Linked DNA regions of Homo sapiens. The protein of the gene in region 1 interacts with the protein of each later gene in a pairwise test. Each region holds a gene or a part of one and is shown on either strand. Other genes may lie near its edges.

Evidence for each region.
Region 2: the proteins of UQCRB (region 1) and ACCS interact in binary tests that used the Homo sapiens proteins (3 or more experiments, as listed by UniProt).

What each region holds. Positions count from the first base shown.
Region 1 is NC_000008.11:96,222,418-96,225,669, forward strand, and holds the end of UQCRB (cytochrome b-c1 complex subunit 7), read right to left. Parts: 3' UTR 530-3,252; downstream 1-529. UniProt on the Homo sapiens protein: Component of the ubiquinol-cytochrome c oxidoreductase, a multisubunit transmembrane complex that is part of the mitochondrial electron transport chain which drives oxidative phosphorylation.
Region 2 is NC_000011.10:44,076,170-44,079,922, reverse strand, and holds part of ACCS (1-aminocyclopropane-1-carboxylate synthase-like protein 1), read right to left. Parts: intron 2,645-3,753; coding exon 2,547-2,644; intron 2,386-2,546; coding exon of another isoform or gene 2,362-2,385; exon of another isoform or gene 2,079-2,361; coding exon 2,001-2,078; exon of another isoform or gene 1,240-2,000; coding exon 1,139-1,239; exon of another isoform or gene 393-1,138; coding exon 303-392; exon of another isoform or gene 1-302. UniProt on the Homo sapiens protein: Does not catalyze the synthesis of 1-aminocyclopropane-1-carboxylate but is capable of catalyzing the deamination of L-vinylglycine.

The DNA of each region.
Region 1 (3,252 bases):
CATTATCACTAATCATCAGGGAAATGCAAATTAAAACCACAAAGAAATATCCTTTTACACCTATGAGGGTAACTACTATGAAAATGACAGGAGATAACAAGTGTTGGTGAGGGTGTAGAGAAAAGACAGTGCTTGTGCACTGTTGGTGGGAATGTAGATTCATGCAGCCATTATGGAAAACAGTATGGACATTCTTCAAAAAATTAAAAGTAGAACTACCATGCAATCCAGCAATCCCAGTTCTGGATATATACCTCCAAAAAATGAAACCACCATCTCAGAAGGCATCTGTGCCCACATGTTCGATGCAGCATTATTCACAATAGTAAAGACATGGAAACAACCAGTGTCTGCCAACAGATGAATGAAAAAATTGTCACACACACACACACACACACACACACACACACACACACACAATGGTATGTTATTAAGCCTTAAAAAATAATAAGATACTGCCATTTGTGACAACATGGATGACCTGGAAGACATTATGCTAACTGAAATAAGCCAGACACAGAAAGAGAAATACTGCATGATCTTATTTATTTGTGCAATCTAAAACATGTCAAATACATAGAAACAGAGAAGAATGGTGGTTTCCAGAGTGGGAAGGATCAGGAAATGGGGAGAGGTAGGTCAAAGGATACACAAACTTGCAATTATACAAGATGAACAGGTCTAGAGATTTCATGTACAGCATGGTGACTATAATTATATTGTACACTAAAAATTTGCTGAAAGTGTAGATTTTAGGTGCTCACCAGACACACATACACAAAGTACTATCGTGGTAATGGATATTTTAATTTGCTTGCCTGTAGTAATCATTTCACTATGTATATTTGTATCAAAACATCATGCTGTACACCTTAAATAAAAAAGAAAAGACAACATAGCAATTTCAAGGAAGACAGAATTTAACTTTCCATTTGCTCACTTGCAAAGTGTGATCTTGTACCCGTTACCTAACATGTCTGAGCCTCTATGAAAAGAGGATAATTGTGCTCACCTTGGAAAAATTTTCAAGGAATAAATGAAACCTGAAATGGCCCACAGTGAACACTAGGTAAATAGTATTTATTATTGTTAAATAGTAAATGATTGGTTGAAGTAGTAAGTGCTTTACAAAGTCAAAGAAAATAGAAATGTCAAGTGCCTGGGGTTGACAAAGAGCTTCTCTCAGTAGGCAGAATTTAATTTTTGTCTTAAAGTAAAGCTAGAATTTAGACAGAGTATGGTGAGGATTGCAAGTGCCATTGCAGGGGACTGAGAATAGAAGGAAAAAAGGTTAGAGGTAGAATTTTGCAGAATGTGTTTGGGGAAGAGGGAGTTAAAACAGGAGGAAAGAGAACACAATGTTTTCAGAATGGACAAACCTTCTGTTTTCTATCATATGGCATCTTTTTAGCACTGGCATTTACCTGCATTAAATTGTGTAGAAGAGTAAGTCTCTGATTGGAAGCAGATCTATCATGGGTAGAGGCAGACAGGTGGGGGTGGTAGAAGCCAGGCTTTGGAAGGCCACTCCCTTCAACTGGAACTAGTGTGGTCTCCTGGAGTCTGACTCTGGGGCATGAGTTAGCTTACCTCAAAGAAGCAAGCTTTGGTTTTCCAGGAACTGACCACAAACCAGTTCCAAGTAGCAGCACTTGGTGCTCTCATGGGGCAACCTAGCCATTCTCAAGGGCAGCCCAGTTCTGTGTGAGTCAGAGTCCTGGCAGGAAAGTGTGGCACACCCAATCAGGCAAACCAAAGAATGTCCAATGAAGGGACAATTAACAAACGGCAGGCAAGGTCAAGGAGAACCAACTTTGATAGAGATAGCAGAGTGGGGAGGGATGGAAGGGAGAGCTGTAGGAATCTTGAGAGGGGCTGCCTGACAGGAGCTGTAGCTTTCTTCAGAGGAACGTGGGCTGGGGAATAAATATCTCTGTCTCTCTCATCTGCCCTCTCTTGCAGGTGGCCACCCTCCCCACACTGGCTGGCCAAGCCCAAGCCAGAAGCCAGAAGGCAAAAGTGTCTATTTGTGCAGTCTTTACATCAATTTATCTCTCCTGGGGTACAGAGCTGAATCCAGAAGGGACAAGAGTAGATTTAGAATATGCAGCACAGCCAACGTCTCACAGAATGAGAAGCCACAGAAGGGGCTGATTACCAGGCTGCATCACCCTCAACAGACCCGTGTTTGTGGAGCCCCTCCGGACCTCTCTCTTTTACCCTTCCTCACATCCACCTCTTACACATCTAACTGATATCCAGTCAGGCCAACTGGACTTCTTAGTATCTCTCAAAAATATACTCTGCTCACACCATATCCCTAAACTCCAGAGGGATTGAAGATTTATGGTTTTGTTTCTTATACCTAAAAGTACTGGATGAAACCTTGCTGGATATTTATGAAAACTTGGAGTAAAGAGAGGACTTCTCAAAGCATGACCTCAGAGGCAAAACCACAGAGGAGAGGACTGAGAGTTTGTACTACATAAAAATCAGAAACTTCCATTTGACAAAACCCACCATGAACAAAGTTGAAAAGGCATCCAAAAAACCTCAAATAAAATTCAAACGATGAAATAAAAATATCATTTCAGCAAATGTAAGTAAAAGGGGTACTATCTAAACATATAAAGGTCTCATACAAATAGATAAGAACTGACCCAGGTTTGGGAAGGGGGAAGAGGGAGCTAAGAGGAAAACTAAACAAATAAGGAAAAGGCTGTGAAAATTAAAAATAGGCCCATAGGTGAAGGACATGAACAAGATTGATGAAAGAGAAATAACAACTTGATAATAGCATATGGAAAAACGTCTAGCTACTCAATCCAAGAAATGCAAGTTTAAACAAGAAACTCTCCAACCAAATTCACAAAGATTGCTTTTAATGAGAGCACTCAGTGCAGGCAGGAATGCAATAAAGGGACCCTCGTGATTGCTTAGATGAATATAAATTATTATAAACTTTTGAAAAGCAAATTGGAAGTCCAGTATTGAAAAACTTCAAATATTCATCCCCTTTGCCCCAACATTTTCACTTCCCAGAATCTATCCAAACACTCTGCTGCTCACAGGATGAAGTCCAGGCATCTCAATATGGCGTACACCTTTCAGGTTGCATCTCCCATGTCTCTCCAGCTGATATTTGCCACTCCATCAGTGCAAAACTGCCTGTCCTTCCCTAGACATACATCCTGCACTTCCATGCCTTTGAGCATTTCCTGCTCATTTTCTTCTGCTTGGAAAGCCCTTCAC
Region 2 (3,753 bases), on another chromosome or scaffold:
ACTGGAGCGACTCTGGAGGTAAAGGAAACAGCAAAGAGGCCAATTTGCCATCCACTCAGCCCTAACTTAAGGGATCCTGAGGCCTCTTCTTGGAGTTCTCAGAAATTCCACAGAACAACTTGAAAATCACTAATCTAGCCCAACCGTCCCTGCTTCTCATTAGATCTGAGGACCAGTGGGACCAGCTGGGTGGAAATGGAATTGCTCTGGGCAGGCCATGCCCTGTGGGCTGAGCCAGAAAGTGGCCAGGGCTCCGTGGGATAATAGGGACTGGGGGAGTTAGCTGTGTCAGGGAGCCTCACCTTTCCAGGCTTAGGACACTGCGGTACCCAACAGACTTCTCAAACACGGACAGCATGTAGACCTCATCCACAATCACATGCAGCCTGTGCCTGGAGTGAGGCAGGGGTGGGGAGGAGAGACTTAGTGTGTAGGGCAGATGCGTCCCACAGGGTGGGGAGGTAATACATCAGAAATCCAGAGGGGCCGGGGTCTAGCCCGGGGTTACCAAACTTGTTTTTCCAAGAACACCATTCTTTCTTCTGTTTTTTTCAAACAGAAAGCCACACATACAGAGCAGGTGACAGAGGAGCTTTTGAAGCACTGCAGGGGAGAAAAGGATCTCCCGGGCACCTCCATGGAGGGGCAAGGTCATGCACAAGGGCTCGAGTCGGAGAGACCCAGGTTCAAGTCTGGATCCACCCCTCACTTGACCACTCTAAGGCTCAGTGAGCTGGATGTGATAACAGCATCAGTAGGGTTGTTGTGAGGATTGTTGTAAGGATTGTTGTAAGGATTGTATGAGGGTTGTTGTGAGGATTGTATGAGGCACATAAAGGGTTGTTGTGAGGATTGTATGATAGCATTGTTGTGAGGATTGTATGAGGCACATAAAGTGCTTAGCATGGTGCCTGGCCCCTAGAGTGTGCGCTAATTGATAGCTATTGTTATAAAGAGTGAAAGATAAAGAGGAATGGGCATCCCACAAATCCCTGCTTCCCCGCTCCACTGCCAAGGAAGGGCCCAAGCAAGTAGCAGCCCACAGTGGGGTCAAGAGAGTAGAAAAACCTGCACCAAACCCGCATTGGAACCCCAGGCTGCCCAGACGCTCTGTCGGGGCCAGTGTGGGGTGCCTCACCTCTTGGCAAATACCAGGTACTCCTGTAGCTCTTCAGGGGAGTATACATCACCCAGAGGGTTCTGGGGGCTGATGAGGATGAGGCCTTTGACCTTCACACCCTGAAACCATCCGTTAGGGCAGGAGACCCTCAGCTCTTCCCCAAGGCCAGAGCCACACAGTCAAAGGGGGCTGATCGCTGGAAGGCTCCCAGGGAGATTTGAGGGGGACATGTTCATAACACAACATGAAGCAAACAAGCGGAACACAGAATTACATCTGCAGCATCAGATAAAGGCGGAGGACAAGGCCCAGAGAAAAAATATACCCAAATACCAGTAGGTTACCTTTGTTGGTAGAATTTTGGGTTGGCCTTTTGCACTTTCAAAATTCCTACAGTGAGTATGTATAGCTTTCATGACAGAAGTAAAAAAAAATTAAGTAGATTTTTGAAAAGTAGGCTGGAAAGGAACCACTGGAATACTGGTCTCTGCTCTCCTTTGGGAGTCCTCAGCTCCCCCCACAGTGAGCAAGGTTGCCCCCTCAAACTACCAGGGAGACTTGTAAAACCACAGACTCCTGTACTCCATACTTGACCCACTGAATCATAATCAGATGGATCAGGGATGGGGGTATCTTTAGTGATGCTCCCTGGTTGATTCTCTGTGAACTGAGGTCTGAGAGTCTGTTTTGAAAGGGAAGACCCTCCCTGGGCAGGGTTCTGCCTGACTCCCAGAATAATTCTGTGCTACCACCCTACCTGTCTGTCCCAATCACCGGGTATCAACCCTACTCCCGGGAGGAGATCAGTCACAAGAAGAGGGGTCCAGACCCTGCTCAGACCCACCCACACCCAGCCTCAGGTTTGATTTGATCCCCAGACCTCAGAGTGAGCTTCTCTCAGGGCCATCTCCAGCTTCTCCACTGTGAGCTGGAAGGGGCGTGTGTCTAGCCCAGTGACCTGGAAAAAGACCCATCAGAGCCACCAGCCACATTCAGTGACCATTGCCCCCCAAAATACATATGAACTCTCAGGCCTCTCCTCCCCTGTAATCCCCAGCCTCCTCAGAAGAGTCTCTGGAAAAGCAGGTGGGGTCCCTCCCTCTTACTGCCATCCACCCCCAACCCATCACTTCAGAGACCCCCTCATCACTCTTGGGTGTCATGCTTAGGTCTACCCTGCTCTGTTCCTACCTTGCTGTTTCTGGGTCTGGCTCTTGGCTTCTACATCAACCCCAGGGATCTCAGAGACTGGAACTTTGGAGCCACTGGGGAACCCAGGCACAGGCAGCCATGCAGCAACAGAAGGCTCCATTCCCTACTCATCACAACCCCAGAGCCCTCAGCATGGACCACCCTCAAATTCAGACCCAGGAAACTCTTGACCACAGGCAGGCCCAGGTTCCACCTAGGAAGTCAAGACTCTTACCTCACTGTCCAGGTAGACATAGGCCAGCCGGATGTTGCCATAGAGACACACGTGCTGTGTGATAGCGCCATAGTAAGGGGTGGGGATCAGGAAAGCCTCTGGGGGCAGGAGTGGGCGAGGGCCTGTCACTTTCTGGCCAGAACACCCCAGACCCTCTGTCCACTGTCCCCAGTCCCTCTCCAAGCCTTTAACTTCTTTGGGGACCGTTTGGGGCATACTTGCACTCTTAACTCCCAAAACACTTTGGAAAGCTTGGATCCACTGAGATCAGCCCCTGATATGGTTTGGCTGTGTCCCCACCCAAATCTCATCTTGAATTATAGCTCCCATAATTCCCCTGCGTCATAGGAGGGATCTGGAGGGAAGTAATTGAGTAACGGGGGCAGGTCTTTCCTGTGCTGTTCTGGTGATAGGGAATTAAGTCTCACGAGATCTGATGGTTTTACAGAGGGGAGTTCCCCTACACAACCTCTCTGGCCTGCTGCCATATAAGATGTGACTTTGCTCCTCATTCACCTTCCACCATGACTGTGAGGCCTCCCCAGCCATGTGGAACTGTGAATCCATTAAACCTCTTTCCTTTATAAATTACCCAGTCTCAGGTATGTCTTTATTAGCACATGAGAACAGACTAATACAGCCCCCTTTCTAATTATTAACAGCTAACATTTGCTAAGCATTTACGACGTGATGGGAAATGCACTGAACATTTGTTTCTATTTTATCTCATTTGCTCCTGACAATTAGTCTCCGAAGGAGGTACTATTTATTATATCCTAACTTTATAGACAGGGAAACTGAAGCTTAGAGGGTTCCTGTTATTGATTGTTCTGGAACCGGCAGGAAATTCCCTATTATATCCTTACAATGAATCTCTCTTTCATGGTTCAAATACTGGTTACTACCTCTCTTTGTGTGACTTTGACAAGTTAACCTCCTGTGTCTTAGTCTCCTCATATGTAAAATAGAGATAACCATAGAACCGACCTTATTGAAGTATTGTGAGGATTAAATGAAATACTCTGCATAAAGCCTTAGGCTAATCCCTGGAACACAGTACGTGGTCAATAAATGTTACTAATATTCTCATTATTAATTAAGTTACCATGAATGGGTCTCTTTTCCTTGCAACCAATAACCCCTGACCACAACTGATTCTTAAAACAACAGGCTCTTGCAGCAGGCAATGCTGGCTGGCTGCCCACTC